Linked DNA regions of Homo sapiens. The protein of the gene in region 1 purifies or fractionates together with the protein of each later gene. This does not show direct contact. Each region holds a gene or a part of one and is shown in the gene's direction. Other genes may lie near its edges. The genes, in order: ZNF71, FBXO11 and PUM3.

Evidence for each region.
Region 2: the proteins of ZNF71 (region 1) and FBXO11 purify together in Homo sapiens (affinity purification with mass spectrometry; 2 studies listed by BioGRID and IntAct, with this or other methods). This does not show direct contact.
Region 3: the proteins of ZNF71 (region 1) and PUM3 purify together in Homo sapiens (affinity purification with mass spectrometry; 2 studies listed by BioGRID and IntAct, with this or other methods). This does not show direct contact.

Annotation. Positions count from the first base shown.
Region 1 is NC_000019.10:56,619,151-56,622,901, forward strand, and holds part of ZNF71 (endothelial zinc finger protein induced by tumor necrosis factor alpha), read left to right. Parts: intron 1-2,117; coding exon 2,118-3,607; 3' UTR 3,608-3,751. UniProt on the Homo sapiens protein: May be involved in transcriptional regulation.
Region 2 is NC_000002.12:47,836,797-47,840,547, reverse strand, and holds part of FBXO11 (F-box only protein 11), read left to right. Parts: intron 1-778; coding exon 779-906; intron 907-1,047; coding exon 1,048-1,129; intron 1,130-1,544; coding exon 1,545-1,689; intron 1,690-3,751. UniProt on the Homo sapiens protein: Substrate recognition component of a SCF (SKP1-CUL1-F-box protein) E3 ubiquitin-protein ligase complex which mediates the ubiquitination and subsequent proteasomal degradation of target proteins, such as DTL/CDT2, BCL6, SNAI1 and PRDM1/BLIMP1.
Region 3 is NC_000009.12:2,837,367-2,841,117, reverse strand, and holds part of PUM3 (pumilio homolog 3), read left to right. Parts: intron 1-2,600; 5' UTR 2,601-2,610; coding exon 2,611-2,692; intron 2,693-3,716; coding exon 3,717-3,751. UniProt on the Homo sapiens protein: Inhibits the poly(ADP-ribosyl)ation activity of PARP1 and the degradation of PARP1 by CASP3 following genotoxic stress. Binds to double-stranded RNA or DNA without sequence specificity. Involved in development of the eye and of primordial germ cells.

The DNA of each region.
Region 1 (3,751 bases):
GAAAAATATATAGAGAACATAAAATGTACCATTTTAACCACTTATAGGAGTACAGTTCAGTGGCCTTAAGGACATTGATGTTGTTGTGCAGCCATCACCGCCATCCATCCCCACAGCTCTTTTCATCTCCCGCAAATGAAACCCTATCCCCATTAAACACCAACTCCCACCCACTCCTCAGCCCCCGGCATCCTCTGTTCTACCGTCTGTCTCTGGGAATCCGACCTCCAGGTACCGCAGATGAGTGGAATCACATGGCATCCATCCTTTCATGTCTGATTTATTTTACTAAGTCTCTTTGATGGGCTTTGCTTTTTTAAAAAATGTTTTTCATGGGGAAAGTCTGAAATCCCAAGTTTCGTATCGGATGTGTTAGGCTTGGGCTATCCAGTTGAGATGCTGGGCTTTTTTGAACAGTTTGGACATAGCCCAGAAAGCAGGTCTGGGCTGAAGGTGTATGTTTGAGCAGCATCAGCCTGTGGATAACGTTTAGATCCAGACTCACTTTGTGTGGCTTTGAAGGTCCAGTGTGATTCAGGAGAGTGGTCTCAAACTCAGGTGGCCTCAGGAACTACCAGGTGGATCATTTATGTGGAGGAGGGGGACAGCTGCTGCCCCATGCAATGTCTTGTTGCCCATAAGAATGAGGCTCCACGTGGCCATATCTTCATGTTTTTTATGAGCTAGCAGCCACATGGACAGCAACTTTTAAATGCTGGGAATGAGTCCCCTGATGCAGAGTCTAGACTCCACCTAGGCTAGAAATCGAGGTTTAGAAATGAACAGGATACACGTGGAAGGTGATTGAAGCTGTGGGCACAGAGGTATTTAGCCAGGGAGGGTGGATGAGCAGAGAAAGAGGGTCTGAACCCAAGCTCCACGGAATGCCTGCCACCCAAGAACTAGGCAGCGTGTGACGTAGCAACAGAAGCAATTGTGAGACCCCAAGTCATGTGATTATTGTGGGCTCAAGTGAGCGGTCCTGTGTGTATGAACACTTAGTGCTGAGGCTGATGAGAGGGCTGGGGTGCGGGAGGGCTGGGGCCAGCCAGGGCAGGTGCGTGATGAGCTAGCGGGAGCCGGAGCCCCAGCCAGGGGAGAGGATCTTGCAGCCAGCAACCCTGGGGCAGCCATACCAGAGAAGTGGCAAAGGGGCAGGAGAAATGCCCGATTTTTCTCTCATTTCACTTCCAGTTTCCTGCCTTTGGCCAAACACACAGGAAGCCAGTGGGCAAAGTCAGCATCCTGAGCACAGGGCAGGTCAGAGAAGGGTGGAGAATAGAAAGTGGGTCGAAGGAGTAGAGAATAACCAACACATGCCATATAAATGCTAGCTATTTATTATTTCTTTATTCTTTTTCTTCTTTTTTCAATATTTATTTATTTATTTATTTTTTAAGAGACAGGGTCTCACCCTGTCACCCATGCTGGAGTGCAGTGACGTGATCATAGCTCACTGCAACCTCGAATTCCTGGGCTCAAGTGATCCTCCCACCTCAGCCTCTCAAGTAGCTGGGACAATAGGCATGTGCCACCATGCCTGGCTAATTTTTAAAAAAAAATTTAGTAGAGGCGGGGGTGGGGGGTCTCACTATGTTGCCCAGGCTGGTCTCAAGCAATCCTTGCCTCAGCCTCCCAAAGTGTTGGGATTACAGGCATGAGCCACTGTGCCTGGCCATCTTATTATTTCTGATAAAAACTGTTGCTTGAGGAGCACGACTGGTTGTGGATCTGCAGGATGAAGTGAGGAGGCCCTGCAAGTCAGTAGCCGGCTGCAGTCATTCCTACTCAGGTTTGCAGAGCCTGCCCTTTGCTCCCTGCAAGCCCAGCTCACTACTGCAGTTTCTCTCCAGGAGTGCCTGTCATCCCTCTTCTGAAGGGACATTTGCTCTCCCTGTTCACCTCCTGTGTTGACTCTGCTTCATAAACCACATTGGCCTCAGTTCCATGCCTCCCTCCTCCCTCCCTCTCTGATCCAAGGTTCTTCTTTGCTAACTCGCTCTGTGCCTTGGGCCTCATTGGGGTCGGTTTCATTTGCTCCTTCCTGCTGTGGAGCTTCCTCACTCCCAGCATCTTTAACTACATGTATTTGCATCTTCTGTTTTTGTTTTTTTCAGACTGGGAGACTAGACCTGAAATGAAAGAGTTGGATCCAAAGAATGACATTTCGGAAGACAAGCTCTCCGTTGTTGGGGAGGCCACGGGGGGACCCACGAGGAATGGTGCCAGGGGTCCTGGCTCAGAAGGAGTGTGGGAACCAGGCAGCTGGCCAGAGAGGCCGCGGGGAGATGCAGGTGCAGAGTGGGAGCCATTGGGAATTCCCCAGGGGAACAAACTCTTAGGGGGCTCAGTACCCGCATGTCATGAACTGAAGGCATTTGCCAACCAAGGCTGTGTCCTGGTCCCACCACGGCTGGACGACCCCACAGAAAAGGGGGCCTGTCCACCCGTAAGGCGTGGCAAGAACTTCTCCAGCACTTCAGACCTCAGTAAGCCCCCCATGCCCTGCGAGGAGAAGAAAACCTACGACTGCAGCGAGTGTGGCAAGGCCTTTAGCCGAAGCTCGTCCCTGATAAAGCACCAAAGGATCCACACGGGAGAAAAGCCGTTTGAGTGTGACACCTGTGGGAAGCACTTCATCGAGCGCTCGTCCCTCACCATCCACCAGCGGGTGCACACGGGCGAGAAGCCCTATGCCTGCGGGGACTGCGGCAAGGCCTTCAGCCAGCGCATGAACCTCACTGTGCACCAGCGCACGCACACGGGCGAGAAGCCGTATGTGTGCGACGTGTGTGGCAAGGCCTTCCGGAAGACTTCCTCTCTCACCCAGCACGAGCGGATCCACACGGGGGAGAAGCCCTACGCGTGCGGGGACTGCGGCAAGGCCTTCAGCCAGAACATGCACCTCATCGTGCACCAGCGCACGCACACCGGGGAGAAGCCGTACGTGTGCCCCGAGTGCGGGCGAGCCTTCAGCCAGAACATGCACCTGACCGAGCACCAGCGCACGCACACCGGGGAGAAGCCGTACGCCTGCAAGGAGTGCGGCAAGGCCTTCAACAAGAGCTCCTCGCTCACCCTGCACCAGAGGAACCACACCGGCGAGAAGCCCTACGTGTGCGGCGAGTGCGGCAAGGCCTTCAGCCAGAGCTCCTACCTCATCCAGCACCAGCGCTTCCACATCGGCGTGAAGCCGTTCGAGTGCAGCGAGTGCGGCAAGGCCTTCAGCAAGAACTCCTCGCTCACGCAGCACCAGCGCATCCACACCGGCGAGAAGCCCTACGAGTGCTACATCTGCAAGAAGCACTTCACGGGGCGCTCGTCCCTCATCGTGCACCAGATCGTGCACACCGGGGAGAAGCCCTACGTGTGCGGCGAGTGCGGCAAGGCCTTCAGCCAGAGCGCCTACCTCATCGAGCACCAGCGGATCCACACCGGCGAGAAGCCGTACAGGTGCGGCCAGTGCGGGAAGTCCTTCATCAAGAACTCCTCCCTCACTGTGCACCAGCGGATCCACACGGGCGAGAAGCCCTACCGATGCGGCGAGTGCGGGAAGACCTTCAGCCGCAACACGAACCTGACGCGCCACCTGCGGATTCACACCTGAGCGCCTCTGTGCAGGGCTCTCACTGGCGGTGCCCAGGACGGACGCCAGATGGCTGCGCGCTTTGTCAGCAGTGCTGTGAGAAGTTCTCCCCTGGGGTGGGGACTCGGGGTCAGGGGAGCTCAGGAATGTGGGGTTGTGGAGGGG
Region 2 (3,751 bases), on another chromosome or scaffold:
GGCCAAGAGGTTGAGGCTGCAGTGAGCTGTGATCGGGCCACTGCACTCCAGCCTGGGTGACAGAATGAGACCCTATCTCCAAAAAAAAAAAAAAAAGATGTTCATACACCAGACTACCCTCTGACACCCTTTTTAACCTACCTGGTATCTCATGCACTATATTGAGCCGTTCCTCTTCATAGACACACTCCTTGCCAAGCTGCCTTCACCATATATGGTCTCTAACCATGTAGTACCAGTTCCCTTCCCACTCCTCTCAGCAAGTGGATATCCTCCTCACCTTTTTTTAAAAAAAAGTCTTCCACGGCTGGGCGTGGTGGCTCACGCCTGTAATCCCAGCACTTTGGGAGGCCGAGGTGAGTGGATCACGAGGTCAGGAGATCAAGACCATCCTGGCTACCACGATGAAACCCCATCTTTACTAAAAATACAAAAAATTAGCTGGGCGTGGTGGCGGGCGCCTGTAGTCCCAGCTACTCGGGAGGCTGAGGCAGGAGAAAGGCGTGAACCCAGGAGGCGGAGCTTGCAGTGAGCCGAGATTGCGCCACTGCACTCCAGCCTGGGCGACAGAGCGAGACTCTGTCTCAAAAAAAAAAAAAATCTTCCACATTTTATAGAAATCTAACATTTCTTTCATATAGCTATCCAGTTGGTTGGAATTTCATATAAAACTTACATCTGCTCCCTCCCGAATTTGAAGTTTTAAGAAAGTTTTCTGTATCCATAGAACTTTTTTTAAAAAGGGTATAATTTTTCTTATTGCTTTTGTTTATAACAGATGATGATGTGCCTGCAGATATGGTTGCAGAAGAATCAGGTCCTGGTGCACAAAATAGTCCATACCAACTTCGTAGAAAAACTCTTTTGCCGAAAAGAACAGCGTGTCCCACAAAGAACAGTATGGAGGTAACTTTAACTGTAGTTGCTTTTCTTTTTGTAATGAAAGAATTTTCAAGAAACAAAAAAGGGAATGTCATCCTTTTTTAGAAGTAATGATTATGGATGATAAGAATATTTGCTTTACTAGTTTCTGTTTTGTTTTTGAAGGGCGCCTCAACTTCAACTACAGAAAACTTTGGTCATCGTGCAAAACGTGCAAGAGTGTCTGGAAAATCACAAGATCTATCAGGTATTTCCTGTGGGAAAGTAACAAATAGGGTAAAATAATTTTTTTTAATTTTGCTTGATACCAAAAAATGAAAATTAAGTGTATTCGAGTATTACCTTTGGGATTCAGAAAGTGATTATTACAGAATAAACTTTAGAACCCTGACCTCTCCCTCTGACTTTTATTGTTGTATAAAAATGCTTTTTATGTATTTATTTTAACCATTTCTGAGATGGCACATAATACCTAAAAGAAGGAGTACTTTTGTTAGTTCAGGATAGAGATAAATATGTGTTACCCATGAAACCCACATGCTTATAAAATGACCATTATCCAAAAAAAAAAAGCTATTCATTAGATAAAATGAAAACTGTGTTCTTTAAATAATGAGAAAGTTATTGCTCGAATGATAGTTTATATGTTAATCTCTTTATAGCAGCACCTGCTGAACAGTATCTTCAGGAGAAACTGCCAGATGAAGTGGTTCTAAAAATCTTCTCTTACTTGCTGGAACAGGATCTTTGTAGAGCAGCTTGTGTATGTAAACGCTTCAGTGAACTTGCTAATGATCCAATTTTGTGGTAAGTAAAAACCTATTCCTTATTAACTTGAGATATGTTATTTGTTGCCCAAAATGCTAAACATGGTAGGAAAGTCGGTGCGGTGAGTTGGTAGTTACAATTAGTTGGAACAAAATTAAAATGCTTATCAATTCCAAGTTACAAATGGGGGCTGTCAGTCCAGGTGGTATTTATAAATCAGTAAATGAAGTCTTTTATCTGCTGTTTATCAGTTAATAGCAACTGATTGATTATGGGAAATGTTTTTCTTTTAGTAGCTTTTTAGAAACATAACAGTGTAATTTAAAATAGCTAATGAATTTTAAATCTGATAGATTAGAATGTAGGTTTTATATATCACTTTTGGAAAACAGTTGTATTCATGAATCTTTAAATAATTCATGCCCTTTGACCCAGTAATTACTGGGTCATGCCCTTTGACCCAGTAATTCTACTTCTGAAAAGTTTTTTTTGCTTTATGTACAGATTTTTCGTAACAGCCTAGTTAATAATGAGAAAAATTATAAATAATCTAAATATCCAGAATTAAGGGAATGAACTACATAAACTGTGTAATGTGTACTTGGAGAGTTGTGATATAACCACTAATAGTAATTTTTACAAAGAGATTTTCATTTGTTTTTTGAGAGACAGGGTCTTGCTCTGTCACCCAGGCTGGAGTGCAGTGTCACGCTCCTAGCTCACTGCAGCCTCAACCCTCTGGGCTCAAGCCATTCTCCCACCTCAGCCTCCTGAGTAGCTGGCACCACAGGCATGTGTCACCATGCCCAGCTAATTTTTTTTTTTTTTTTTTTTTTGAGACAAAGGGTCTCACTCTGTTACTCAGTCTGATCTTGAACTCCTGGGGTCAAGTGATCCTTCTACCTCGGCCGCCCAAAGTGCTGGGATTATAGGCATGAGCCATTGCACCCAGCCCAGGTTTTTAATAAGATGAAAAAAATGCTGTTATAAAAAGTGAAAAGAGGCCAGGTGTGGTGGCTCCTGCCTGTGGTCCCAGCTACTCCGGAGGCTGAGGCAGGAGGATCATTTGAGCCCAGGAAGTCAAGGCTGCAGAAAGCCGTGATCGTGCCACTGCACTGCAGCCTGGGCGGCAGACGGAGACCCTGTTTTTTAAAGAAAAGAACAGAGTACAAAATTGTATATGCTATATAATCACAACTATAATAAATGATCTGTAGATAAAATGAGTGGAAGCAAATATGGCAGACTGTTAATAGTTAATATATTGAAACTATAGTTCTTTACACTTCTTTGTTTTACAACGGTTATATGTATTACTTTTATGATGCACAAAAGGTGCACCATATATATATATGTTTTTGTTGTTGTTTTTGACGGAGTTTCGTTCTTGTTGCCCAGGCTAGAGTGCAGTGGCACAATCTTGACTCACTGCAACCTCTGCCTCCCGGGTTCAAGCAATTCTCCTGCCTCAGCCTCCTGAGTAGCTGGGATTACAGGCACCTCCCACCATGCCCAGCTATTTTTTGTATTTTTAGTAGAGACAGGGTTTCACCATGTTGGCTAGGCTGGTCTTGAACTCCTGACCTCAGGTGATCCTCCTGCCTGGGCCTCCCAAAGTGCTGGGATTACAGGCATGGGCCACTGTGCCCGGCCCACACCTTACATTTAAGAGAAAAATTACAAAGGAGAAATGAGAATGAAGAGCAGCAGAACAAAACAGCATTGCTCACTGTACCAGAAATGATAATAGTTAGCCATTACTCCAGTTTGAAGATTTCATTGTGCTTGATAGGATATAAATGGACTGAAGATATAGGACAAATTAAGTTCAAAGTATTTTTACTGAAAATTATCTTTTTAGGCTAGGCGAAGTGGCTCACGCCTATAATCCCAGCACTTTGGGAGGCTGAAGTGGGCAGATTACTTGAGCCCAGGAGTTTGAGACCAGCCTGGGCAACATACTGGGACCTCATTTCTACAAAAAAAAATCAAAAAATAAGACAAGAGGATCACTTGAACCTGGGAGGTTAAGGCTGCAATGAGCCATGATCACGCCTCTGCACTCCAGTGTGGGCAACGGGAGTGAGACTCTGTCTCAAAA
Region 3 (3,751 bases), on another chromosome or scaffold:
TCAGAGAAGGAAGTTACAAATGAGCAAGAGGAGATGCCTGGAGGAAAATATGTGGTGCTTGATTAGATTTGGAAACATCAGTATGAGCTTCAAGTTATTGTAATAGATATAAAAATAAATATAGGTATGTGCATATGCATAAGTTAATATACATATATGTGTTTCCTGAATCTGTCTGCCGAAAGGACATAGAAACAGGGACACCTCAGTGACAACAAGTGCGCCTAGCACTCAGATCTTGGTTTTTAAATACCATTCTCAATGAAAGGAACCAGGATTCCTTGGAGAAGTGGCTGATTTCAGGGCTAGGTTAAGGAAAATACAGAAGGAACCTGGAGCCAGTGCCAGGAAATAAGGATGTGCTTTAAAAGCAAAACAAAACAGTTGGGCCGCGTCAAAAGGACACAGAAGCAACCTGAGAAACTTCCCCCTGGCTGGAGCTAGCATTATTTGAGCAACAAAATAACAGTGGTATTGGATTATAACCAAGGAATGAAATAAATATCTGAGACTATATGATACAAGTAAATAGATGGAAAAGATGGGACAAGTCTTCCCTACAGAAAAGTTGAGAATAACAAAGGCAAAAGTAATAAGAGAAATAGAAGATCACCATTTAAATGCAGTAATTGCTGCAGGCGATATCCACCGACAAATGCTAAAGTTAGCAGGTAAAACTTAGGAGGACATAGGATGTCTACATATTCTCCAAACATCTTGTCTAAAATGTTTATTAATTGCTGTGGTAGTTTAACGTATGCCTGGATTCTTTAGTACCCCTCCTTCTGGGAAGTGGAGCTTAATTTTCCTCTGACTTTGGGCTGGACTTGGTGGTTTGGATCTAATAAAGATGGAAAGGTTAAAGTGGCAACTTCACAGTGGAGAAACCTGGAAAACACTACTTTGACCAAGTGAACACGGTTAACATAAACAGTAATAAGTCATGTTAATGTCATGTACCTCTTGATAGAGTACTACCAGAAGAAAGCTTGACCTCTGGTAGTCTTCCAAAAAATGTGTAGCCTTAGCCTAATCATGAGAAAACATCAGGCAAACCCCAAATGAGGAATATTCTACAAAATACAAAGGAGACTTGATGGCCAGATTCAGTGTATCCTGGTACAGAAAGAGGATATTAGTGGAAAAACTGGTAAACTCCAACTCAACTCTGTAGCTTAGTTAACTGTATGTTAACATTAGGGGAAGCTGGGGAAAGGGTATATGTGAACTGTGTATCTTTTCAACTCTTTTGTAAAGCTAAAATTATTTCAATATAAAAATTAGAACAAACATACAGAGAAAACATGTAAATGAATGGATTCTTAGAAAACTACAGGTGTAGAAGAGCTGAGAGATGCAGGTATGGTTATGATGGCCATAGCCAAGTAATAATGTGACCCTTCAGTTCTAAATGCCCTGAGGAAGCTGAGTAATTCAGGGACTGTCCATTTTTCAAAATCATTAGAAAAGTCTAGATTAGAACAGCACTTTCCAGAGTACTCCTTGGAAGTCTGCTGTTCCCTTATGATGTTCCAGGAAAAAGTGGTTCAACTGGAGTTGGAAAATCCTGCATCCTTTAGCCTTTGCTTGAGAATTGATTGTATATATTAGCAAATTAAAGAATCTGAAAAGCCTTTTCTTACGGGCTGATTCTTGTCATTTAACTTACTGTTTCCCAAATATATTTTATCCCAGAACCCTTCTTTTCTCTTATGGTAATATCCTGAGAAATTAGTTCTTGAATGGGCAATTCTAATCTAGAAATATCTGGTGTTGTCTAGGGATCCCTAACATCTGTTGTTTACAGCCAGCTTTCAAATGAGTTGATCGTCCAACTTTGGAAAGTGGAGAAATGAGCCAAATGGCTTTTTCTCTTGATCTGTTCTGCTGCTTTCAGGGACCTTGGGTAGGTGAGGGGTTATAACTTGTTTATCCTGTGCACCATGGTGTCTCAGTAGCCTATAAAGCGCCTATTAGACAGATTCCTTTCAATGAAATATTAACTATTTCAACATCTTATTTTGGAGTTCACTGCCAATTGCTTGGCTGCGTCTAAAACAATCACAGATTAAACACTGGATGCTAATCTTTGTTTTAGCTGTGTTGGATTGCATAGGAATCTTTCAGATAATCCTTTATTTTCTTATATTAAATGCATGTAGTGGTACATGCAGCCTATTGTTTGTTCCTGGCTTTTTAGGCTCCAAGAAATCAAGCGATAATTTTGTCAGTTATTCATCCCCTAGTCTTCCCAGGTTACAAAATGCAAACTCTGATGCTTATTATACTTAGTGTCAATAGTGGTCTATTTTTAGCCAGTACTATTGTGGAAGTGAAGTGATGCCTCCAGAGATATCAAACACTGGCCAGGGTGTGTGTTGTTCTTAGTTTTTTTATTGATACCTTGTTCATTTTCAGTTTTAAAATTTGAGTCAGTGATTGCAAAATTGCTGGATTTAAGTACTTGTCCATTCTATATCTGGCTGATTTGTATTGTATTTGTAGACTGAAGGACTAAATGTGGCAATGACTATGAAACAGCTCTTATTTGATGAAGAGAACTGCAGTGATTGTTTTTGGTTTTGGTTTTGGTTTTCCAGAGTTGCTACGATGGAAGTTAAAGGGAAAAAGCAATTCACAGGAAAGAGTACAAAGACAGCACAAGAAAAAAACAGATTTCATAAAAATAGTGGTAAGATATGCTTCCCATGTGGGTGTTTGGCTGTTATAATTGGGGGATGGGAGGGCATGTAGTAAATTTCAATCTGTATTCATTGGCTAGGATTAGGATTAAAATAGTAGGAAGAAGTATGTGTTATTGTGTATGAGTTAACATGTTGCTCATGACATTTAGACACTTAAGAAATTGCAAGAATGATTGAGGAATGCCTTATTCATGAAAGACTCCTTATCTCAGTTGTTGCTGCTGTTGCCTCATTTTATTCACACTAGTTCACCATACATTTTATTTTAACATTTGATAAATTAGGACTGTTTAATACATACTGCTCATAAGCCAAATACGTTTAGGTTCAGAATTTATAATGGTGATGTCTTTATTATTCCATCAGGTGTCAGTATTGTAAAACAGAAAAGTCAAGGGACTATACAAATGATTAATGTTTCCTTAATGTTAGCCATTACTGTTTGCATCTCATTTGTTAGGTACTAATTTGTAAGCCTTCTTGATCAAAAGTTTTTGATAAATAATTTTAATATAGGCTTTAAAATTTTCTTAAAACTAGAAAATTTTAAAATTAACATTTTAGATGTCCTTATGATATACTTTCCAAATTTCAAGAATGTTCAAGAAGTCATTTCTTAAGACTTCTTTTGTTATTGAACTCTTGAAAATTCTGTGTAGACCATCATTAAAGCAGAATACAAAGGTATATAAATAATAGCTCTGCTATATGCTTAAAACTAGAGAAACATACCAAACTGACACCAGTGTTTATCTTTAGTGGTAGAATCATGGGTAGCTTTTATTTTACATTTCTCTACTCTCTAGGTGGTTTTATAATCAAGGAAAGAATTTTTTATTTTTGTTTTGATTGTTTAAATCCAGTTCTACTCAAAAGGCTATATGTTGCATATTTGAGAGTAAGACATGGTATTGGGATTAAAAAGTATAATTTTCTGTAATGGATATAATCCAATAGATAAAAGAGATTTGGGCCCAGAATCATTGAACTTATAATTATTATTGTCACTAGATTCTGGTTCTTCAAAGACATTTCCAACAAGGAAA